Linked DNA regions of Homo sapiens. The protein of the gene in region 4 purifies or fractionates together with the protein of the main gene of each other region. This does not show direct contact. Each region holds a gene or a part of one and is shown on either strand. Other genes may lie near its edges. The genes, in order: ATL2, SLC25A23, SFXN5 and SLC22A6.

Region 1 (3,858 bases), on a different chromosome or scaffold from region 4:
AAGTTGTATTTCACTGAGTACATTAAGGGCAGCTCAATTCCTCGGTCTAACTTCCAGCAAAATGTAAATCTGAAAGACAGGAGTTCCTAGGATCTAAGACTTCAGTAGAGAAGGTAAGGGAGCAATTCTCTGTGCTGCCTGGGAAACCCCCAATCTAGCTTTGACAGGAACCAATAACTGGAAGACTCCCCAAAGTCGCATTCTCTTTATGGCAGAGGCTCCCAACAGAATCCAAGTACAATAGTCATTTGATGAGTAATCTCTGGCCAAGTGAGAAGATGGCTACCAGATGCACAGCAACTCAAGCTAATTTTCATCCTCACTCCACGACTATCACACGAATGGAAAAAACCTGAGATGCGCAGATCCATTCTGGTCAAGTTAGAGGAAAGGAGGGAATCCAGGACATGAATGTTTAGGCTAAAGCTTAAAAGTGTGAAATGGACTTAAATCCTGTAGAGAATTGTCTTCTTTGAGTAAAGCACTCTTTTCTGACAAGAAATGTAAGAAAGCCAATGGTCTAGATTTTATAACTTTTTAAAAGTAAGCTGTCTTTAATTTCAGAAAATCTGCTATTATACAACAAATTATTTTTTCATTCATAAAAAACAGTCCACAGCATTCATAAAACAGGGTGGCAGAAGAAATAAAAAGACACTTTTCAGGTGGATTCTTTAAGAACAGATAAGTTAGCAATTTAATACAGATGAAAACAAATACAATCCATATAAAAACAGAATCTGAATGGGAGTGGGAGCGAAGATGTATCAACCAAAGTAAATTCAGAGTTTTCACACATGCAACTCAACACCTGCATTCTCTTCGCTTAAAAAGCAAACTAAGGGCCGGGCGCGGTGGCTCACGCCTGTAATCCCAACACTTTGGGAGGCCAAGGCAGGCGGATCACAAGGTCAGGCGATTGAGACCATCCTGGCTAAAACGGTGAAACCCCATCTCTACTTAAAATAGAAAACATTAGCCGGGAATGGTGGCACGCACCTGTAGTCCCAGCTACTCAGGAGGCTGAGGCGGGAGAATCACTTGAACCCAGGAGGTGGAGGTTGCAGTGAGCCAAGATCGCACCACTGCACTCCAGCCTGGGTGACAGAGAGAGACTCCGTCTCAAAAAAGAAACAAACAAAACTAGGTACTTTAATCGGTGTTCACAAAGAAGACCACAAAAGTACTGAAAAAATGCTAGCCTTACATATACCACCAAAAAAAAAAAAAGAGAGAGAAAGAAATTAACAATCCCCATCTACAACTAGGCTAATCATAGGTTTTCCCTTATAGAGACAGACACAGAAAAGTAACTTTTTACAAGCTTAGTTTTGAGGTACAATGCCTTAGAGCTCTCAACTGGGGTGTTTCCTGCTCATGCTCTTTTCACTATAAACAAATGTGGTTTATGAAGTGGAATACATACTTGAAAAATTCCTTAAAAAAGAATCACAAGTTTCATTTTATATATACAACAAATTTTTAATTATGTACTGAAAATAAATTACAGGAAATAACTTTAAAATGCAACAGAGGACAAAGTCACAATAAACATTCCCATTGAATTCCCTTGGTGGGCGGGGGGGGGGTGAGATTGCAGTGCTCAAGATAAATATCACAAATATATCAAAAACTTCAAATTGTCTATGCATTCACACACTGACATGAGCCACAAACATTCCTTTCACAGGGACAGTACTTATTTAGCCTACCACAGGACCAGATTTTGCCATAAACTACAAAACTTTTAATACAAAATCGTATTTATATATTTATAAGTCATATACATGCCCTATCTGTGATTTTAGAAAATAAAAGCTACACACTGTACAGACACTCTTAACTCATAGCTGTAGGCAACATTTTTGGATGGAATTTCTTCCCCAATAAAATTAATGGCATATTTTATATACATGAAGGCTAAACTGCAAAAAGACAGTTCAGTTTCCCAGATATGCATCTCCTTTTAGGGCAAGTTTATAAATTTAAAAAGGCAAGACAAATGTACACCTCAGAATTACTTTCTTAGCTACAAGAGTTGCCATGTAATTTCTGTGAAGTTTCTGATACATGCATTGATGTAATACTGGTATTGAAGGCAGTAAAGCAATATATACTTTTAATGTAGTGGCTCAATAAAGGCTTCATTGTCTTTCCAATCTGGTTCTTGAAACAGTGATTCATAAATTCTCTAAAAATTAAAATTTCAATGGGACACTGTGTTAAAGAGACTCTAAATAGATTTCTGAAAATATTTCCCTGAAATATCCTTTTACATAAGACAAATTCACTAACATTAGATTAAGTAAAAAGAAATAAAAGAGTTAAACATGGCACAAAGGTGCATGATTAACCAATGCTCCTCAGTCCATCTGCATGTCTTAGGAGCCATTAAAAGAATGCTTAAAACTAACAAACAATCTTCACACTCTGTGGCAGCCATCTGTGAAGCCAGTTACACTAAACTACTTCTACAGTTGATTGTAAACTTTGGTTTATTTTTATTTGAGTTCTCATTGTACAGCAAGCATGAAAAAAAAAGAGAGTGGAGTCCGTGAGGAGATGAACTGTCAGTCTGTCTTTAATCTGGCATGATGAGACACCTGGTCAGTCAGGCCTGCTTTGATAGAGTTTGTTACAGACTGCCTTATGTTTTCCTCCATCAAATTATCACCCAGGGGCTTCAATACCTGTGGTATGAGAAATGTGCAAAACAAACAAAAACATGAGGTAAAAAAAGAGTTACATATAAAAATAGATATAAAAATTCAATTCAAAGCAATGATGAAAATAACCAGGAATATGGGAAATAAAAAGATGCTTCTCTCAAAAAAACTTATGATGCTACTAGACATTTTATAATGCAACAAAAATTACTTTCCTCTTATTCAAACCATTTACAATTCCTATGAGATGGATGTGCAATTCCATACCCTATATGCAGCATCAAATCTGGTATGTATACAGCATTTATGCAGACCGGCCCAGACGGTCCTGCTTATTGTCCTACATGTGTAAGTGTGAACACTTCAGATAGAGAAAAAGGTTAAAAATACTGTCTAATTTTTCTTCTTGTTATTGTTGGATGACAGTCTCTGTCGCTGTGCTGATGAAAGAGCACGGTGAACCATTCGACGTCTAGTAACTTCAAACAGTTTGGAAAACACCTAAAACATGAAGTGATTTGTTAGGAGAATGAATCAGAGTGCCTCGAAGCTAAAGAGTTTAAGACTACAAGAATTTGAGACTGTAGGTTTCTCACCTTCCTGGGACTCCTCTGAAGCAAAAGAAAAGAGAAATGCAAAGAAATTTAGACAAGGTTTGTTGACACAGCACAGATCTCTGACTAGCTGATTACCTTACCTAAACTATACTGAAAATGATTTTATACACTTTAGATTCTTCCATTTAATTGTTTTGTAATAATGGTACCTCCAAAATCCTAGAATCAATGCTGTTTAAGAGATGAATATTTCTCAAAAGAAGATATTGTACAATTATTGAAAATTATATTGCAGAAAATGATCCAAAATTTTAAAATAGCTAATTTTTTCTTAAAAGTGAAGTTGCGATAGCTTTGCATCCATCTTCTATTAGAAGATATCAAAGAAACATCAAGTAGTGAGATTGAGATAAAAATTTAAATAGAATAAATATCCAAACATAAACTTCCCAATCGGATCTGAATAGAGCATTTCTCTAAAGAGTAAACACAAAATCCAAATTAATATAGTGGGTCACTTTATAAAATAACATCATTACAAGAAAAGTCAATATCCAATCAACTTTCTTCAAAAAAAATGGTCTGCTTCTTCGGTCTTCAAGTTTATAGCCAAAACAAACATGGACCTGCATATC
Region 2 (7,038 bases), on a different chromosome or scaffold from region 4:
TGGGAGGCCGAGGTGGGAGGATTGCTTGAGCCCAGGAGTTCGAGACCAGTCTCTATAAAACAATTTAAAAATTAGCCAGGTGGCCAGGCACGGTGGCTCACGCTTGTAATCCCAGCACTTTGGGAGGCCGAGGCGGGTGGATCACAAGGTCAAGAGATCGAGACCATCCTGGCCAACATGGTGAAACCCCATCTCTACTAAAAATACAAAAAATTAGCCAGGCATGGTGGCGGGCACCTGTAATCCCAGCTGCTTGGGAGGCTGAGGCAGGAGAATGGCATGAACCTGGGAAGCGGAGCTTGCAGTGAGCTGAGATCGTGCCACTGCACTCCAGCCTGGGTGACAGAGCAAGACTCTGTCTCAAAAAAAAAAAAAATAGCCAGGTGTGGTGGTGCACACCTGTAGTGCCAGCTACTCAGGAGGCTGAGATGGGAGAATTGCTTGAGCCCAGTACGCAGAGGTTTCAGTGAGCTGTGATCATGCCAATGCACTCCAGCTTCAGCAACAGAGCAAGATCCTGTCTCAAAAAAAAAAAAAAAGAAAGAAAGAAAGACAGAAAGAAGACACAGTCTTATTATTTAATGCATTCTTTACCCAAAAAGGGACTTTAAAAGTCTAAGAGGTTTTAGAAACCTTGGAGTTTCAAAATCTGTGTTTGTCCCTTAAAGGCTCCGAGAAGTCTCTCAGTAAAGTGATTTAACTTTTTTTGTTTTTAACCCAGTGCTGGCCACATTAATCTAGTCTTTAGAACTTTTTTTTTTCTTTTTTTTTGAGACAGAGTCTCACTCTGTCACCCAGGCTGGAGTGCAGTGGTGTGATCTCAGCTCACTCCAACCTCTGCCTCCCAGATTCAAGCAATTCTCCTGCCTCAGCCTGCCGAGTAGCTGGGATTACAGGTGTGCGCCACCACGCCAGGCTAATTTTTGTATTTTTAGTAGAGACGGGGTTTCACTATGTTGGCCAGGCTGGTCTTGAACTCCTGACGTCAAGTGATCCGACCACCTCGGCCTCCCAAAATGCTGGAATTGCCAGGTGCAGTGGCTCACACCTGTAATCCCAGCACTTTGGGAGGCTGAGGGGGGTGGATCACAAGATCAAGAGATCAAGACCATCCTGGCCAACATGGTGAAACCCCATTTCTACTAAAAATACAAAAAATAGCTGGGCGTGGTGGTGGGCACCTGTAATCCCAGCTACTCGGGAGGCTGAGACAGGAGAATCGCTTGAACCCAGGAGGCGGAGTTTGCTGTGAGCCAAGATCGCGCCACTGCCCTCCACCCTGGGTGAGAGAGCGAGATTTCATCTCAAAAAAAAAAAAAAATGCTGGGATTACAGGCATGAGCCACCACACCCGGCCGTCTTTAGAACTTCTTTTCAACAGATTGATCTTAATAATAACCCATTAAACATCTATTTGGCAAGTGCTGTTCTAGACCCAAAAGAAGGCTTCTAAAATTTCAAAGGCAATAATGTTAAGTACTTGCCTATTTTACCCAGTCTGTGCCTGGGCTAGGCATTACTAATCCATCACAGCACTGAGTCCTGCTCAACACAATTCCAGTTTCAGGCAGCAATTTCTGGTGGATTAGAATTGGCATAGGAAATGAAACCTATAAGCCTCTCCCAGCCGCAAAGCAAAGAAGGTCTTGTTCTTACAGTCACCTTGGCAGAAGGCTTCAGAAGGGATTAGCCACCCTAAAGTCTTCAGGTGCACAGTTCTAGATTCACATACAGCTGTGAATGTTGGTTCTCACCTTTATTTTGTAGCTTTGGGCAAGTAACTTCCCGAGCCTCAGTTTCTTTTCTATAAAATAGAGATAATAGGGCCGGGCATGGTGGCTCACTCCTGTAATCCCAGCACTTTGGGAGGGAGAGGCAGGCAGATCACTTGAGGTCAGGAGTTGGAGACCAGCCTGGCCAACATGGTTAAACCCTGTCTTTACTAAAAATACAAAAATCAGCCGGGTGTGATTGTGTGTGCCTGCAATCCCAGCTACCTGGGAGGCTAAGACAGGAGAATTTCTTGAACCCGGGAGGTGGAGGTTGCAGTGAGCTGAGATTGTGCCGCTGCACTCCAGCCTGGGCGACAGAACGAGACTCCGTCTCAAAAAAAAAGCAAAAAATTAGCCAAGCCTGGTGGCACATGCCTGTAATCCCGGTGGCATAAGCCTGTAATCCCAGCTACACAGGAGGCTGATGCAGGAGAATCACTTGAACCTGGGAGGTGGGGTTGCAGTGAGCCGAGATGGTGCCATTGCACTCCAACCCAGGCGACAGGGTGAGACTGTGTCTCAAAAAATAATAATAAAATAAAAATAAAGATAATTAGCCGGGTGTGGTGGTGCACAGCTGTAATCCTGGCTACTCCAGAGGTTGAAGTAGGGAGGATCACCTGAGCCCAGGAGGCGGAGGTTGCAGTGAGCCGAGATTTCACCACTGCACTCCAGCCTGGGTGTGAGAGCGAGACCCTGTCTCAATAATAATAATAATAGTTTTGGTCTTAGTTTGAGATCCTTCCAAAACAGACCCTGAAACTGGGACGTGAGGACAAGTGATTTATTGGGGAGGTAATGAGACAGGGAGTCAATGCACACAGTATGAGTATGTTAGTTTCCTAGGACTGCTGTAACAAAGTATCACAAACTGGTTGGCTTAAAACAACAGAAAGTTATTGTCTCACAGTTCCAGAGGCCAGAAGTGCAAAATCAAGGTGTCAGCAGAGCCATACTCCCTCTCAAACTTGTTAGGGGAGAATCCTTCCTTCCTTCCTTCTTTCAGTTTCTGCTTGTTCCCAGCAACCCTGGACATTCTTTGGCTTGTAGATACATTCACTCAAATCTCTGCCTCCGCTGTCACCTGGCTGTCTTTCTCCGTGTGTGTCTCTGTCTTTCTCCTCTACGGACACCAGTCATACTGGACTAAGGGTCTACCCTGTTACCCTACTCATCTTAACTAATTAGATCTGCAAAGACCCTATTTCCAAAGAATGTCACCTTCTAAGATACTGGGGGTTAGGACATCAACATGTTCCCCCCCAAAGGAGGGACATGATTCAACCCGTAACAGTATGTTATCAAGCAAGTTACTATTCCTAGCAAATGGAGTTCCAGCCCTCTAGAGATCTGTGGGAGGCAGCATAAGACATGCTGCACCAGAGAGATGAGGGAGCTGGGGTATTGATCCACCAGGTCAGTCTTTTGAAGGTTGCATCTGGAGATGCTAATTTCCCAGGGCTTTCTGCCCATTCCTAAGTGGTCAGAGCCGGCTGGCCTGCGTTCAGAGAAAGTCCACAAGCAAAGTCTTTGGGTAAATGTTGGCAGTAAGAAGTCAGCAGGTCTGAATTGGAGTGGGAAGGGATGAAGGTGGTGTACTCACAGCATCTACCACAGGCAGTGTCGTTGGAGAGTGTTTTTTTGTTCATTTGTTTGTTTTTGAGACAGTCTTGCTCTTATTGCCCAGGCTGGAGTGCAGTGGTGTGATCTTGCCTCGCTGCAACCTCCGCCTCCCCGGTTCAGGCGATTCTCCTGCCTCAGCTTCCTGAGTAGCTGGGATTACAGGTGCCTGCCACCACACCGGCTAATTTTGGTATTTTTAGTAGAGATGGAGTTTCGCCATATTGGCCAGGCTGGTCTCGAACTCCTGACCTCAAGTGATCCACCCATCTCAGCCTCCCAAAGCACTGGGATTACCAGTGTGAGGACGCCAGGCCCGACCTTTTTTCTTTTTGATACTGAGTCTCACTCTTGTCGCCCAGGCTGGAGTGCATCACGGCTCACTACAGCCTTGAATTCCTGGGTTCAAGCAATCCTCCCACTTCAGCCTCTTGAGTAGCTGGGACCACAGGCATGCACCATCACATCCAGTTTTTTTTTGTTTGTTTGTTTGTTTGTGTGTTTGTTTGTTTTTGTAGAGACAGAGTCTTGCTATGTTTCCGAGGCTGGTCTCAGGCTCCTGGGCTCAAACGATCCTCTTGCCTCGGCCTCCCAAAGTGCTGGGATTACAGGCGTGAGTCACCATGCCTGGCCTTTTGTTGCTGTTGCTGTTTTTAATTTATTCTTTACCCTTCTTGCAAGCAAACAAGTTATAAACTTAGTGTCTTAGAACAACACGAATGTATATCCTTACAGTTCTGGAGGTCAGAAATCCAAAATGGGGTTCTTACTGGGCTTTATAAAATCGAGATGTTGGCAGGGCTGCGTTCCTTCTGGATGCTCCAGGAGGAAATCTGTTTCGTTGCCTTGAAAAAGCTTCTAGAGGCCGCCTGCACTCCTTGGCTTGTGGTCCCTTCTTCCATCTTCAAAGCCAGTAGCATAGCATCTTCCAATCTCTCTCTCGCTTCTGCTTCTGTCTTTACACCTACTTTTCTAACTCTTAGAAGGGCCCTTGTGCCGGGCATGGTGACTCATGCTTGTAATCCCAGCACTTTGGGAGACCGAGGCAGGTGGATCACCTGAAGTCAGGAGTTTGAGACCACTCTGGCCAACATGGTGAAACCCCATCTCTACTAATAATACAAAAATTAGCTGGGCGTGATGGCACACGCTTGTAATCCTAGCTACTTCGAGGCTGAGGCAGGAGAATCGCTTGAAGCCAGGAGGCGGAGGTTGCAGTCAGCCGAGATTGCACCATTGCACTCCTGCCTGGGCAACGAGAACGAAACTCCGTCTCTGAAAAAAAAAAGAAGGGGCCTTGTGCCAGGCATGGTGGCTCATGCCTGTAATCCCAGCACTTTGGGAGGCCGAGGGGGAAGGATCGCTTGAGCCCAGGAGTTCGAGACCAGCCTGAGCAACATAGTGACACTCCATCTCTGTAAAAAGAAAAATAATTAGGCCAGGTACTGTGGCTCATTCCTGTAATCCCAGCACTTTGAGAGGCTGAGGCAGGCGGATCACAAGGTCAGGAGATTGAGACCATCCTGGCCAGCACGGTGAAACCCTGTCTCTACTAAAAATACAAAAAATTAGCCAGGTGTGGTGGCACGCACCTGTATTCCCAGCTACCCGGGAGGCTGAGGCAAGAGAATCGCTTGAACCAGGGAGGTGGAGATTGCAGTGAGCCAAGATCACACCACTGCACTCCAGCCTGGGCAACAGAGCAAGACTTCATCTCAAAATAATAATAATAATAATTTTTAAAAAAAGAAGGACCCTTGTGATGGCATTGGGCCACTCAGATAATCCAAAATAATCTCATCTCAAGATCCTTAACTGAATCCCATCTGCAAAGTCCTTTGTGTCATCTTGGGTAACATATGCAGAGGTTCCAGAGATTAGGGCATAGTCAGTACAGGGGACCCTTATTCCACCTACCAGAGAGGGTCCAGATGAGGACTGGGTGAGGGGACGCAGGGAAAGGGCTGGCCCGGCCCCTAGGAGGTACCAAGTGCTCAGCTAGTAGCACCTGTCATGGGATACAGAACCGGCCAGCAGGCCTTTGAAGCCAGGGTCCTAGGGTCACCCACCCCAACCCTCCCTACTCCCTTCTCCACTCCAGACTCTGAAGAACTGGTGGCTTCAGCAGTACAGCCACGACTCGGCAGACCCAGGCATCCTCGTGCTCCTGGCCTGCGGTACCATATCCAGCACCTGCGGCCAGATAGCCAGTTACCCGCTGGCCCTGGTCCGGACCCGCATGCAGGCACAAGGTGAGGCCTGGGCGGGAGGATGGGGCAGGGGGAGTCTCATCGCTTGGGCCCCAGCTTCTCCCAAGTAGAGCCCTGGGCTGGGACCCTCCTGGATTTCGATGGGCTTCTCTGGGCCTCCGTTTCCCCATTTGTGACATTGAAATGGGAGTCCTTTACTTTCATGGAGCTGAGGATTAACTAGGATAACAGGTGCAGTGGGTACAGGAAGAGATCCCTTGCAGACTTAGCTGGGATGTCGTTGCTGGCAAATGTCTAGCATTTCCAGGCTGGTAACTTGAACTCTTAATTTGTAAGCCTGGGTTATCGTGAGCGGGAGGCTAGGAACAGGGGTAGGGAGCAGTCAGGGCCAGAGTGGTTATTGTTTTTGTCTGTATTTTTCTTTTATGAATTATTTCCCCCCGTCCCCTCCACCACTACCCTCCCATTCTCCCTGAATCTGTTTTGAGAATTTTCTTGAGAATTTTAGTGTTTGTGTTTTGTGATTTTCACTGGAGATGTGTCAGTGTACAAGACGGACACGGTCCCCACCCTCATAGAGCTCACAGGCCGGAGAGGAAGGAAGATGCTAAATAAATCATTCTGGAATTAAGTATTGATTTAGGGTTGTATAAAGGGGAGAAGGAGGCCGGGCACAGTGGCTCACATCTGTAATCCCAGCACTTTAGGAGGCCAAAGAGGAAGGATCATTTGAGTCCAGGAGTTTGAGACCAGCCCGGGCAACATAGCAAGACCCCATCTTTTTTTAAAAAATGAAGAAATAAATTAGCCAGGCGTGGTGGCAGGTGCCTGTAGTCCAAACTACTTGGGAGGCTGAGGCCGGAGGATCACTTGAGGCTGCAGTGAGCTATGATTATGCCACCACACTCCAGCCTGGGTGACAGAGTGAGACCCTGTCTCAAAAAAGTGGGTGGGAGCCAGGGGTAGTGGCTCACGCCTGCCATCCCAGCACCTTGGGAGGCCTAGGTGGGTGGATCACCTGAGGTCAGGAGTTCGAGACTAGCCTGACCAACATGGCTAAATCCTGTCTCTACTGAAAATACAAAAATTAGCCGGGTGTGATAGCAGGCGCCTGTAATCTTAGCTACTCGAGAGGCTGAGGCAGGAGAATCACTTGAACCCAGCAGGCATAGGTTGCAGTAAGCCAAGTTCGTGCCATCGCACTCCAGCCTGGGCAACAGGAGTGAAAACTCTGTCTCAAAAAAAAAAAAAAAAAAAAGGGCTGGGCATGGTGGCACACGCCTGTAATCCCAGCACTTTGGGAGGCCGAGGTGGGCGGATCACCTGAGGTTAAGAGTTCAAGGGCCGGGTGTGGTGGTTCACGCCTGTAATCCCAGCACTTTGGGAGGCCGAGGCGGATGGATCACCTGAGGTTGGGAGTTGGAGACCAGCCTGAC
Region 3 (7,038 bases), on a different chromosome or scaffold from region 4:
AGGCTTATGTATGATTTATATTTCCAGATCTTTAAATTGCTTTTGAAATTAAAAAAATCAATATTATACCTAATATACAGAAATGATATTACATTTAAAAATACATATTTAGAGTAAAATGCAAGCCAGTCACAGTGGCTTGCTCCTATAATCCCAGCTACTTGGGAGGCTGAAGTGATAGGATCACTTGAGCCCAGGAGTTTGAGATCAGCCTGGGCAACACAGTGAAACCCCATCTCTACAAAAAATTTTAAAAATTAGCCAGGCATGGTGGTATACACCTGTAGTCCCAGCTACTTAGGAGGCTGAGGTAGGAGGACCACTTCAGCCCAGGAGTTCGAGGCTGCAGTGAGCTATGATCATGCCACTGCACTCCAGCCTGGGTGACAGAGTGAGAGCCTGTCTCCAAAAATAAAATAAAGTAAAACATGAACTGATATTTTAAGTATTATACTTGATTAAGAGCTCCTGAAGGACATGGGCTATTGAATGTTCCTTCCTTATCCTCCCTGGCTCGAAGTCTCCTTACATATCTGGAAGGAAGGGTCTTCTGCCACAGGAATCCATGAGTGGGCTGATGAGCAGCCAATGGCCTCAAGGCTTCTGGGTGGGGTAGAGCTGGGCTGGGCTTTGAAGGGAGGGCAGGATTAGGAAAGGGTAACAGTATGGCAGCTAGTGGTCCAAGGAGGAAAGAGGATGAGCAGGGGAAGAGGAGAGAACCTGGAAGTAGAATGGCCTGAGTGAAGCAACTTCTTGAAGATGGTCCAGCAGAAACTTCAGCCTTTGACTTGTCCTATGGTCTGGCACGGTCTTCATCCTGTCCCAGCCCTGCCAGCCTTCTTGTGTCACTTTCGACCATAGCTACTGGGGGAGACTCCCAGATAAGGCATTTTGCTCCACAGACACCTACAAACTCCTAATGAGCTAGGCTCAGGGGACAGACACCAAATGAACAAGCCCTCAAAGAGCTCACAGCCCATCAAAACAGACTAATAACTATAAACAAGTAACTACAAAACACTGATCAGAGTTTAAATGAAGCATCGCGAAGTATACTGGGGACACACAGAGTTCTTCCTATGTCTTCCTAGTTTAAGTCAAGGAGGTGTCCCAGAGGAGCTGGGACCAAGGGATGGATGAGTTTACCTAGCAGAGGAGGGTATATGCAAGAGGATGAAAGCATAAAGCTTAGGATCAGAAGCTGCACCAGACTCCTGTGGTCTCTTCATTCATTCATCATTCAACCCACTACCGAGGATCTACTGTGTGCCCAGCACTGTGCTAGGTCCTGGAGGTAGCAAGGCTGACCGACTGTGGGGAAATGAGGAAGAGCAGCCACAGATGATGCCTCACTTTCTAGTGAGACATGAATGTTTGTTAACCAGAATAGGGACAGGAAGAAGCATACTGATTAAGTGGAAAGAAGATAAAAACTCTGTATTGGTCATATCAGTCTGAGATATTTAAAGGGACTTCCAGATATAATTTTTCAGCAAACATTTGGACTGAGATTCAAGAAAGAGACTCTGAATTGGAAATGTCAGGTACAGATTGCCCTAAGACCCCCACCCCACCCACTATAGAGACAAACCTATAGTCTGACCAAGTCAGATTTACTGACTCACTCAACAAAGAAAAGCACCACAGCAGAGGAATTATGGGGTGCCTTGCCAAACAAAGAAAAATATTTGGTATATAATTTAAGGAAGATAGAGTAAAATGTAAATGAAGCAGTGCTTCAATAGGCTCCAAGCAAAGCAAGACTGTGTGAAAAGGAGTCATCATAGGTCTGGACCAACCACTCAGGGTCTTGTTTCCTTAAAAACTATAAAGTTAAGATTAATGAGAAACGTTGTGACCAGAAACCCCTTATTTGCAGCTATGGGTTGATTCTCCGAGGCAAAGTGACTTAGACCTGCCAATCAAGAGGTAGATGGTTCATTCCTAATGATATGACTTAAACAGCAAAGTTCCTGGCAGTCTAGGACCTTATAGAGTGAGACATGAGTATGAAAGAGGTGGTTACTGGAAGAAGGTTGTTCGATACTTTATAGATCCTGTGGGTCCTCGTGAGAAACATTCTTTCTTTGCAGCTGGCTCTGTGTCTGTCCTCCCTGTCTGATGAATGGCAAGGAAGGTTATACTTTCTCAGTCTCAGTTCATTTTTATTTTCTCAATAGTTCAAAATGTATAGCCTCCCTCCCAAATTCAGCTCCCATCTTTACCCAATCGCACAATCGGTGGATGTTTTTCCTCCCCTTTTTCTTTACTGGAAGAATGAGTCAGCCAAGTGATTCCTTCTCTTTCCCTTCATAAGAAAGGTGAGTCAGCTAATTCTCAGCAGGAGCCAGGGCCTACAGCAGCAGCTGCCTTCCCACCTCCACCAGCCAGCTCTCTCCCATCTGCAAGCCCCCCAGGGAAGAGCAGGCCTTGGGAGCAGCAGCAGAGGGCAAAGATCCCAGAAGAAGCTGACACCGCCCCGCAACTACACACACCAGACCTCCAAATTACTGCTCTTCGATTAGGAATAATATACTCGCTGAACCTACAGCCCAAAGCAGAAAGGCTGGGCCAGCCCAGTAGTCCTGAATCAGCTGCACCCTGAACCACCTGGGTACTTCAAAAACCAGGCCATACACCCAGGGATTCTGATTCTATTGCTCTGGGTGTGGCCTCCAGGCATCAGTGTCTATTTTAAAACCTGCCCAGTGTGACTCTTGGAAATTATGACCCCTCTCCACTGCACAAACCAGCCCAGGAGCAGCACTAGAAAAAACTCACTGTCTCGCCTATAGGAAGTAAATGATTAAAATATATAACCACCTGCAAGGTACTGTGATTTTAGAACTTTATTTCAAGCAAACTATGAGACATATCCCCCCTGCCTCCCAACTCTCAGCCCACACAAATCTCCCAACCTTGAAGTGAAGAAAGCATTTGTCTGCCCAGCAAGCTCTCCATACCCCAGAGGGAGCCCTGTGCAACCAGCCTGCTCTGCCCCACTAGGCCTTGGTCCCCAGCACACTCATACCCCCAGTCATCTCAGCAGATAAGTGAGACTTCCAAAGGAGCAAGGAATTTTTGTTTTATTTTTGAGACACAGTCTCACTTTGTCACCCAGGCTGGAGTGCAGTGGCACGATCATAGCTCACTACAACCTCCACTTCCTGGACTCGGGTGATTCTCCCACCTCACCCTCTAGAGTGGCTGGGACTACAAGCATGTGTCACCACACCTGGATAATTTTTATATTTTTTGTAGAGACGGGGTTTCGCCATGTTGCCTGGACTGGTCTCAAACTTCTGGGATCAAGCAATCTGCCCACCTTGGCCTCTCAAAGTGCTGGCATTACAAGCATGAGCCACCACACCTCGCCAGAAGTTGTTAAAAAACTTCTTCCCTTCTTTCTGAGACAGGGTCTCACTCTGTTGCCCAGCTGGAGTGCAGTTGTGTGATCATAGCTCACTGCAGCCTCAGACTTCTGGACTCAAGGGATCCTCCTGCCCCAGCCTCCCAAGTAGCTGGGACTACAGGTGCATGCTACCACGCCGAGCTAGTTTTTCAATTTTTTGTAGACATGGGGTCTCACTATGTTGTCCAGGCTGGTCTCAAGCTCCTGGCCTCAAGCAATCCTCCTGCCTTGGCCTCTCGAAGTGCTGGGATTACAGGCATGAGCCAACTGCACCTGGACAACAATTTTTTTTTTTGAGATAGAGTTTCGCTCTTGTTGCCCAGGCTGGAGTGCAATGGTGCAATCTCGGCTCACTGCAACCTCTGCCTCCCGGGTTCAAGCAATTCTCCTGCTTCAGTCCTGAGTAGCTGGGATTATAGGCGCCTGCCACCATGCTCACATAATTTTTGTATTTTGTAGAGACAGGGTTTTGCCATGTTGGCCAGGCTGGTCTTGAACTCCTGACCTCAAGTGATCTGCCCGCCTTGGCCTCCCAGAGTGCTGGGATTACAGGCATGAGTCACTGTGCCTGGCCATGTGGGGGAATCTTGAAGGGCTATTTTTTGTATTTTTTAGTAGAGACAGGTTTCACCATGTTGGCCAGGCTGATCTCGAACTCCTGTCATCAAGTGATCTGCCCGCCTTAGCCTCCCAAAGTGCTGGGATTACAAGCATGAGCCACCGCGCCTGGTCCTGGACAACAATTTATTTACAGATGGACTGAAACACAAATGGGAGAAAGTATGTGTGTTTGTTTCCTGTCCTGGGGCCCCAACATGGCAAACATGGTGTCTGGGCCGGAAGGAAAAACAGTGAGTTCAGGAGAGGAAATGACCAGAAAAGGAAGAGGAAAGGAAGCAAAGCAGGTCTCAGAGGTTCCCTGGGTGCTGTGCTGTCATCTCCTCCCTTTCACTAGGCAGCTGGAGTAGTGGTTAAATGCATAGACTTTAAGTTTACAGGAGAAACAAGGGATAAAGGAACATGCTAACCACTACCACAGAGATGCCATCAGCAACATTGAGAAGGTGGGGAATTCTACAGGGACGAACAACTGCTTCTTCAATAGGAAGGGAAAAAAGGAAGACAGAACTAACAGATTAAAAGATACAAAAGAGGCCGGGTGTGGTAGCTCACGCCTGTAACCCCAGCACTTTGGGAGGCCGAGGCGGGTGGATCACCTGAGGTCAGGAGTTTGAGACCAGCCTGGCCAACATGGTGAAACCCCATCTCTACTAAAAATACAAAAATTAGCAAGGCATGGTGGCATGCGCCCGTAATCCCAGCTACTCAGGAGGCTAAGGCAGGAGAATCACTTGAACCCGGGAGGCGGAGGTTGCAGTGAGCTGACATCATGCCACTGCACTCCAGCCTGGGCGACAGAGAGAGACTCTGTCTCCAAAAAAAAAAAATAAAAGATACAAAAGAGAAATACCCAAAGGTAATAATATGTGGGACTTATGGGATCCTGATTCAAACAAATCAACTACAAATAAATTAAGTGATGGTCAGGGAAATATGAATAGCGACTGGTTACTTGATGATATTAAGAATTAATGGGCCAGGCATGGTGGCTCATGCCTGTAAATCCCAGCACTTTGGGAGGGCCAGGCAGAACAATCATTAGAGGCCAGGGGTTTGATACCAGCCTCAGCAAAATAGCAAGACACCTGTCTCTACAAAAAAAAAGAAAAGAAAAGAAAAAACAGAAAGAAAACAAACAAACAAAAAATACATATAGCCACGCATGGTGGCACACCCCTGTAGTTCCAGCTACTCTGGAGGTAGAGGCCAGAGGATTGCTTGAGCCCAGGCGCTCAAGGCTGCAGTGAGCCATTAATTACTGTTCCACTGTACTCTATTGTGGGTGACAGACAGAAACCCTGTCTCTAAAAAAAAAGAAAAAACAAATAATGATTTTAGGTGTGTTAAGGACATGGTTATGTTAAACAAATCAAAAAACCCTCCAATATCATGTGATAAAGAGAGCATTTCACCTCTGTGATATTCTTACCTCAAAACCCAAAAGAAAGACATTAGGCAACCCAAGTTGAGGGACACTCTATAAAATATCTTCCAAAATTGTCAAGGTCATCAAAAACAAGCAAAGTCTGAGAAACTATCCCAGGTACTATGACTGCCGCAGACCAGAGGAGGCTAAAGAGACATGATGACTAAATGTAACATGTTCCTGGATGGGATCCTGGGACAGAAAGGAGACATTAGTGTAAAAAAAAGTAGTAAAATTCAATGAAGTCTGGAGTGTAGTTAACGATAATGTACCAATGTTAGTTTCTTAGTTTTGAAAAATGTACTGTGGCAATGCAAGATGATAACAGAGGACAATGGGTGAGGGCTAGGCAGGAATTGTTTGTTGTCTTTTGACTTCTCTAAAATTATTCCAAAATAAAAAAATTTTTAAAAAGCTAACCAAAGAGTCCTTATTTTTTAGAGATACCTACTAGTGGGTTCAATGAAATGATGGGATGTTTGGCCTTTGCTTCAGAGTAATTCATTGATTGGGTTGTGGGGGGTGGGTGCATAGATGAAACAAGGCCGGCTTTAAGTTGGCAACTGTTGAAGCTGGATGATGGGTGCATAGGGGTTTACTGACAACTGTCTCCAGATTAGTATGTTTGTAAACTTCCATAATAAAAAGTTGACAACAAACCAACAAACAAACATGAACTCTGGAGACAGACTGCCTGGGAATTTACTTAATCTGTTTGTGTGCTGTAGTTTTCTTACCCATAAATTGGAGATCATTGCACCTGCTTCACAGGGTTGTTGTGAAAATTCAGTAAGTCAATACACAAAAAGGCTGGAATGATGCTTGGCTATCGTCACCATCTTATGGGGAGAAAGATGGTCACAGACCACCAACACTCATCACCCTTTCTTCACACTCTGACCCTCCACACCCTCCACCCTCTTTCTGCCCGTCCTCTTGCACAGGGAGACACTTGAGGGAATAAAGAGGAGTTCTAGAGCGACTCCAGGGAATAAGGAAAGACCTTGGTAACAAATCCTGCAGAAAGCGGTGAGATTAATTGGGGAATAAGGGTCATGTCCCTGGCATGGGTGCTGGGAATGAACCCTGGATTATCAACCACCTTGAAGCAGGCTTCTGTCAGGCCAGCACAAGGTACTATGAGCATATATATTACACAACTATTACATGCCAGGGCAGGACACAGAGATGTGGGCTGGGCCCTAAAGGAGCTCATCAACCCAGTACATATGTAGCCAACCTTTGTGTCTTTAGACTCACCTCCTTAGAGACACCCCAACTCTGGGATGTCTCAGCACTGATGAACCTTACACTGTCAAACATGACACCACTTGCAATTTTGTAAGATCCCTAAGGGACAATTTGGAGAAAAGTTGGTCCACCTCCCCAGTCACAACCTTACAAGTCAATTTAATTCAAGTCCGCAAAGCCCTACTGAATTGTCTCCAGGATATTCATGTATATAACAAATCTTCATTAAGCACCTCTTAACTGCCAGGCACTGTGCTGAGCCTTGGAGAGTCAACAGGGAGTAAAGACAGGCACAGCCCCCACTTCTGCAAAGTCCATAGTCAACAGA
Region 4 (5,909 bases):
CACACGGGCCTGCGTGGGCACCTTGATTGGCTATGTCTACAGCCTGGGCCAGTTCCTCCTGGCTGGTGTGGCCTACGCTGTGCCCCACTGGCGCCACCTGCAGCTACTGGTCTCTGCGCCTTTTTTTGCCTTCTTCATCTACTCCTGGTGCGTGGGGCCTAGGGTTGGAGGTGGTTGCCACAGGAGCCCAGAGGCTGCAAGGGACAGGACATCTCCCAGAGCTCAGCACACATCCCATCCCACAAATGTAGAGAAGGTCAAACCCAGTCCAATGCCTCTGTGTGACAGATAGGGAAACCAAGGCTGTGGGGAGAAGGCTTTGCCCCAGGATATCCAATTCTCTGGCTTCCCCCACTCCGTTCTCCAGCCTGCCTGCTCTGCTCCCCCTACCCGCAACCAAGAGCTGAGCTTCTGGATTGGGGAATATGTCATTACCAAGCTGGGCACTGCCTCGTGGTCCTAGAGAGAGGGATTTGGCAAGGCCCCTGGGTTCCCAACCTTAAATAAAATCCCATCGCAGACCCCTAGAAAGCCCAGCCCCAGCCCCCCACCCAGCTGACTGGAACTGAAGCCATGCTGACACCCACCCCCACCCCCGCTCCCAGGTTCTTCATTGAGTCGGCCCGCTGGCACTCCTCCTCCGGGAGGCTGGACCTCACCCTGAGGGCCCTGCAGAGAGTCGCCCGGATCAATGGGAAGCGGGAAGAAGGAGCCAAATTGAGTATGGAGGTGAGATCCCCTGAGACTTCCCATGATAACCTCCCAGGGCTTCACCCCCAAACCCCAAACCCAGGACCCAGGGCCCAGGGAACTCCTCTAAGTAAGGGATTAGGCTGGGAGGAGCTCCTTGGGAGGATCCCGGGCCCTGAGCTCTGCCGGTCCCAGCAGGTACTCCGGGCCAGTCTGCAGAAGGAGCTGACCATGGGCAAAGGCCAGGCATCGGCCATGGAGCTGCTGCGCTGCCCCACCCTCCGCCACCTCTTCCTCTGCCTCTCCATGCTGTGGTAGGCCCAGAAAGACAGACAGACTGAGACAAAAGGCTGGCTGGGGCAGGAGGAGACACAATGGGTGAAAGAGGCCAGAGAAGAGGGCAGGAAGGTCAGCAGACCTGCTGTGAGAAGCAGTAACCCCACACTAGGGATCATCCTTAGGAACCAGATGCCCCCAGCCTTGACTCAGTCCCAGTCTCCACACGGGACACCAGTCTCCCCATCTTGTCCTTTCACTAGCCCTGTTCCAATGTGGAGACACCTCATCAGGACCAGTGGGCTCCAGAGTCAATAGACTTACATCATGAAGGCAGAGACCAGTCTGGCTTGCAAAATATTCATAGATTTTACTGGCCTGATGGTGCCTGCCAGAAACACAGGCACAGGCAACAAGATGACTAAAACTCATCTCCAAAGAACACTTTGGCCAAGGCCAAAGAAAATCTTCCTTTCCCTTTGCAACACTCCCCATTATCCTTCCTTCCCATCACCATAGCAATCCCATGACAGTTAAGGGAAACATAGTCAGAAGGAACAATCCTGCCAATGAATTATTTGCTTCCAATTTGGGATTTATTCTCAGTCATGGGCTCTAGCCAATAATCTTGAGCTTCGTTTTTTGGGCTCTTGACATCTTAAAAAGCACAACACTCATCCCAGGACCATGGACAGGTCCCAGAAGGCTCTCTCTACTCTCCCAGCTGCCTTGGCCCTGAAGATGGCTTGGGTATGCACCTGCCCTCCCTCAGTCCAGCATCAATTGATAAGATGAAAACTAAACCTATGTAAATCCTACAGAGCAACTAAGTGAAAATTCCCCCAATTAACTGCAACCCTAGTTATCAGAAGATTGGCAAATTTGGAGTATTACAGGACTACCTCAATACTTAAACTCTGCAGTTTAATGATATGGTTAAATGAAGAAATATTAGCCAAGGCAGATTCCAGCTCCTTAAGCAGGGTACCCAATGCAGTTCCCCCACTGTTTTGAAAGAGCACCCCACTTTAAGCCTTCCTAACAAACTCCATACTCCTCTCTTCTCTCTGCTAGGTTTGCCACTAGCTTTGCATACTATGGGCTGGTCATGGACCTGCAGGGCTTTGGAGTCAGCATCTACCTAATCCAGGTGATCTTTGGTGCTGTGGACCTGCCTGCCAAGCTTGTGGGCTTCCTTGTCATCAACTCCCTGGGTCGCCGGCCTGCCCAGATGGCTGCACTGCTGCTGGCAGGCATCTGCATCCTGCTCAATGGGGTGATACCCCAGGGTGAGCACCCACGAGCACCTTGGCCCCTTCTCCTCAGCCCCATCCCCACACATAACCCAATATCTCAGAAGGGAGGGGGCCAATTCCTCCTAGCCTCCACTCCCAAGCTCCTGCTATCCCCCCTTCTTTCTCTCTAGACCAGTCCATTGTCCGAACCTCTCTTGCTGTGCTGGGGAAGGGTTGTCTGGCTGCCTCCTTCAACTGCATCTTCCTGTATACTGGGGAACTGTATCCCACAATGATCCGGTGAGTGGGAGCCTAATGGGAGAATGACAGCCTTTTCCTGGGGAAAGACATTCTTCTGTGCACAGGTCAGACCCCAGAGCTAAATCAAGTACATCCCAGCCCAAAGGCCCCTCCCAACACTCATCATTGCAAGGCACATAGTAGCCACTGAGTACACACCTCATGGCCTAGCTAACACAGGTGTTACTGTCCTCTAAGCCCTTACGGGACCCTAGAAGATCTCAAAAGTAGCCACCAACTGGGGCAGGGTAAGGAACCAAGAAGACACATCTCAGAGACAACAAATTGAAGTCTTCCTTTAATCTCCAAAACACAAATTAGAAGCTGCCACCACATCTACATTCCATCTATAAACCAAGTGATATATCTGAAAGCAAAGGCCACAAACATGAAAGCAATTTCCTATCTCAAGATTCACTCCTGATAATATCCCAGCAATAGGAATAAATATAGTATTGCTTATTTGAGTCCTAAGATGGAGGGCAGTATTTTTGCATTAAGAAACAAGAATGGGGGCCCGGCACGGTGGCTCATGCCTGTAATCCCAGCACCTTGGGAGGCCAAGGCAGGTGGATCACAAGGTCAAGAGATCAAGACCGGCCGGGCACGGTGGCTCACGCCTGTAATCCCAGCACTTTGGGAGGCCGAGGCAGGCAGATCACGAGGTCAGGAGATCGAGACCATCCTGGCTAACAAGGTGAAACCCCGTCTCTACTAAAAATACAAAAATTAGCTAGGCGTGGTGGCAGGCGCCTGTAGTCCCAGCTACTTGGGAGGCTGAGGCAGGAGAATGGCGTGAACCCGGGAGGCGGAGCTTGCAGTGAGCCAAGATGGCACCACTGCACTCCAGCCTGGGCGACAGAGCAAGACTCCATCTCAAAAAAAAAAAAAAAAAAAGAGATCAAGACCATCCTGCAAGACCATCCTGGCTAACCAACATGGTGAAACTCCGTCTGTACTAAAAATACAAAAATTAGCTGGGCATAGTGGCACACACCTGTAGTCCCAGCTACTCAGGAGGCTGAGGCAGGAGAATAGCTTGAACCTGGGAGGCGGAGGTTGCAATAAGCTGACATCGCGCCACTGCACTCCAGCCCCAGCAAGAGAGTGAGACTCTGTCTCAAAAAAATAAAATAAAATAAAATAAAATAAAATAAAATAAAATAAAATAAAATAAACAAGAATGGGATGCAAAATTTACATGAGATAACAAAGAAATGTCAGGCTTCCCTGGGCTACTTGGAGTGGGCCTGTAAGGTCTGCAAAGTGGAACCCTGAGGGTCATGGTCCTGTGCCCTTACCAGATTTCAGATGAAAGAGCAATAATCCGAAGCACTCACTATGTACCAGGCAGTGTCTTAAACTTTTCACAAATATTAATTCATTTAATCTGCATAACAAGCCATTGTGGTAGGCACTATCATTATTCCCATTTACAAACGTGAAAGCTGAGGCAAAGAGAGGTTAAGTGACTTCTCCAAGATCATGCAGCTAACAAATGGTGAAGCATGCATTTGAACCCCAAGCAGTATGTCTCCTGAGTCAATGTTTTTAACCTCTTCTCTCATGAAGAATGTTCTTAACATGCAGATTCCAGCTCCCTCCCCCTAGGGATTCTAATCCAATAGGTGTATGTTGGCTTGTTGCAACTATAACACAATTCCTCCAGGTGATCTGAGAACCATAGGTGTACCACAACTGAATCATTTGACAGCTGCAGAAACTGAAGCCCACGGAGGGAAAGGGGCTTGCCCAAAGTCACACAGCAAGTTAAGGGCAAAGGCAAAATTCAATCTTAAGTCTCCTTATTCTCTGGCCAGAACCCTTTCCAACTTCTCTTTTTCAAAAGATCACCAACAGCTGTGGTGGGGGAGGACCATTTGAGCCCAGGAGTTTAAGACCAGCCCTGGCAACACAGAGACCCTATCTCTACAAGAAAAAAAAAAATCGCCAAATTGGTTTGCTAATCAAATGGGGAAGAGAGGAGGTACCGGGAGTGTCCTGGGGGCTGAGCCTGAGCTGCCACCCTCCAAATGGGACCAGCATCTGGGCATTCATGCTGGAACTCTAACCAACACCCATCTGCTGCGGGCCCTGCAGGCAGACAGGCATGGGAATGGGCAGCACCATGGCCCGAGTGGGCAGCATCGTGAGCCCACTGGTGAGCATGACTGCCGAGCTCTACCCCTCCATGCCTCTCTTCATCTACGGTGCTGTTCCTGTGGCCGCCAGCGCTGTCACTGTCCTCCTGCCAGAGACCCTGGGCCAGCCACTGCCAGACACGGTGCAGGACCTGGAGAGCAGGTGGGCCCCCACTCAGAAAGAAGCAGGGATATATCCCAGGTAACACATGCAGGGTGGGGTGGTATTGAGACTCAAGCCCAGGCTTCCTCTTCTAGCCCAAAGCTCTGTGTCCCTTTGTCCCCAATTGCCTGAGCTTCTCCTAGAATCCTTCCTGGGGATCCCAGCTCCAGGGAGCAGTAGGTATTTGGGGCAGAGAGCAGGTGTCCAGGCATAGCTGAGCGGAGACCCCCTGGGAGCCTCCATATCCCGGCCCTGGCCTGGAGGCTGCATACCCAGAGTGCCATTCTTCTGCCGCCCTGCAGGAAAGGGAAACAGACGCGACAGCAACAAGAGCACCAGAAGTATATGGTCCCACTGCAGGCCTCAGCACAAGAGAAGAATGGACTCTGAGGACTGAGAAGGGGCCTTACAGAACCCTAAAGGGAGGGAAGGTCCTACAGGTCTCCGGCCACCCACACAAGGAGGAGGAAGAGGAAATGGTGACCCAAGTGTGGGGGTTGTGGTTCAGGAAAGCATCTTCCCAGGGGTCCACCTCCCTTTATAAACCCCACCAGAACCACATCATTAAAAGGTTTGACTGCGCACCATCTCTCTGTGTCTCTCTTGTCTCAAAAGGAATGGCCACTCCATTTTAGTCAGCTTCCAGCCCAAGAGGCCATACAGTCCCCTCCCACCCACTCCATCCCCGGGACTTTACAAACCATCCCAGAAAATTAGAAAAGACTCTTGCCTTTGCCCCTTTCTATCCCTCCCTCTTCCCTCCCCCATCCTCTAACCTATTCAAATATTTCTGTGAGATTTAGCTAAATATCTAATGCTCCTCCCTTCCCTGTCAGGCTGGAAACTGACAAGGGCTGAAATGACAGGCTGAAATGAAAGCAGCCAATCAGAGGCTTTGTTTCAAGCTCCTCCCACTCTGAGAGCAGATGGGAACCTCTGACAGCAAAGGAGAAGAAAAAGGACAATAGCTGGCCAGGTGTGGTGGCTCACACCTGTAATCCCAGCACGTTGGGAGGCCGAGGCGGGTGGATCACTTGAGCCAGGAGTTCAAGACCAGCCTGGGCAACATAGCGAGACGCTGCCTCTATTTAAAAAAAAAAAAAA

The links.
Region 1: the proteins of SLC22A6 (region 4) and ATL2 purify together in Homo sapiens (affinity purification with mass spectrometry; 2 studies listed by BioGRID and IntAct, with this or other methods). This does not show direct contact.
Region 2: the proteins of SLC22A6 (region 4) and SLC25A23 purify together in Homo sapiens (affinity purification with mass spectrometry; 2 studies listed by BioGRID and IntAct, with this or other methods). This does not show direct contact.
Region 3: the proteins of SLC22A6 (region 4) and SFXN5 purify together in Homo sapiens (affinity purification with mass spectrometry; 2 studies listed by BioGRID and IntAct, with this or other methods). This does not show direct contact.

What each region holds. Positions count from the first base shown.
Region 1 is NC_000002.12:38,293,424-38,297,281, forward strand, and holds the end of ATL2 (atlastin-2), read right to left. Parts: intron 3,278-3,858; coding exon of another isoform or gene 3,263-3,277; intron 3,168-3,262; coding exon of another isoform or gene 3,060-3,167; exon of another isoform or gene 2,691-3,059; coding exon 2,571-2,690; 3' UTR 531-2,570; downstream 1-530. UniProt on the Homo sapiens protein: Atlastin-2 (ATL2) is a membrane-anchored GTPase that mediates the GTP-dependent fusion of endoplasmic reticulum (ER) membranes, maintaining the continuous ER network. It facilitates the formation of three-way junctions where ER tubules intersect.
Region 2 is NC_000019.10:6,442,757-6,449,794, reverse strand, and holds part of SLC25A23 (mitochondrial adenyl nucleotide antiporter SLC25A23), read left to right. Parts: intron 1-5,493; coding exon 5,494-5,644; intron 5,645-7,038. UniProt on the Homo sapiens protein: Electroneutral antiporter that mediates the transport of adenine nucleotides through the inner mitochondrial membrane. Originally identified as an ATP-magnesium/inorganic phosphate antiporter, it also acts as a broad specificity adenyl nucleotide antiporter.
Region 3 is NC_000002.12:73,061,711-73,068,748, forward strand, and holds part of SFXN5 (sideroflexin-5), read right to left. Parts: intron 1-7,038. UniProt on the Homo sapiens protein: Mitochondrial amino-acid transporter. Transports citrate. Does not act as a serine transporter: not able to mediate transport of serine into mitochondria.
Region 4 is NC_000011.10:62,976,080-62,981,988, reverse strand, and holds the end of SLC22A6 (solute carrier family 22 member 6), read left to right. Parts: coding exon 1-147; intron 148-605; coding exon 606-729; intron 730-885; coding exon of another isoform or gene 886-888; coding exon 889-1,004; intron 1,005-2,040; coding exon 2,041-2,255; intron 2,256-2,392; coding exon 2,393-2,501; intron 2,502-4,601; coding exon 4,602-4,805; coding exon of another isoform or gene 4,806-4,844; intron 4,845-5,107; coding exon 5,108-5,195; 3' UTR 5,196-5,392; downstream 5,393-5,909. UniProt on the Homo sapiens protein: Secondary active transporter that functions as a Na(+)-independent organic anion (OA)/dicarboxylate antiporter where the uptake of one molecule of OA into the cell is coupled with an efflux of one molecule of intracellular dicarboxylate such as 2-oxoglutarate or glutarate.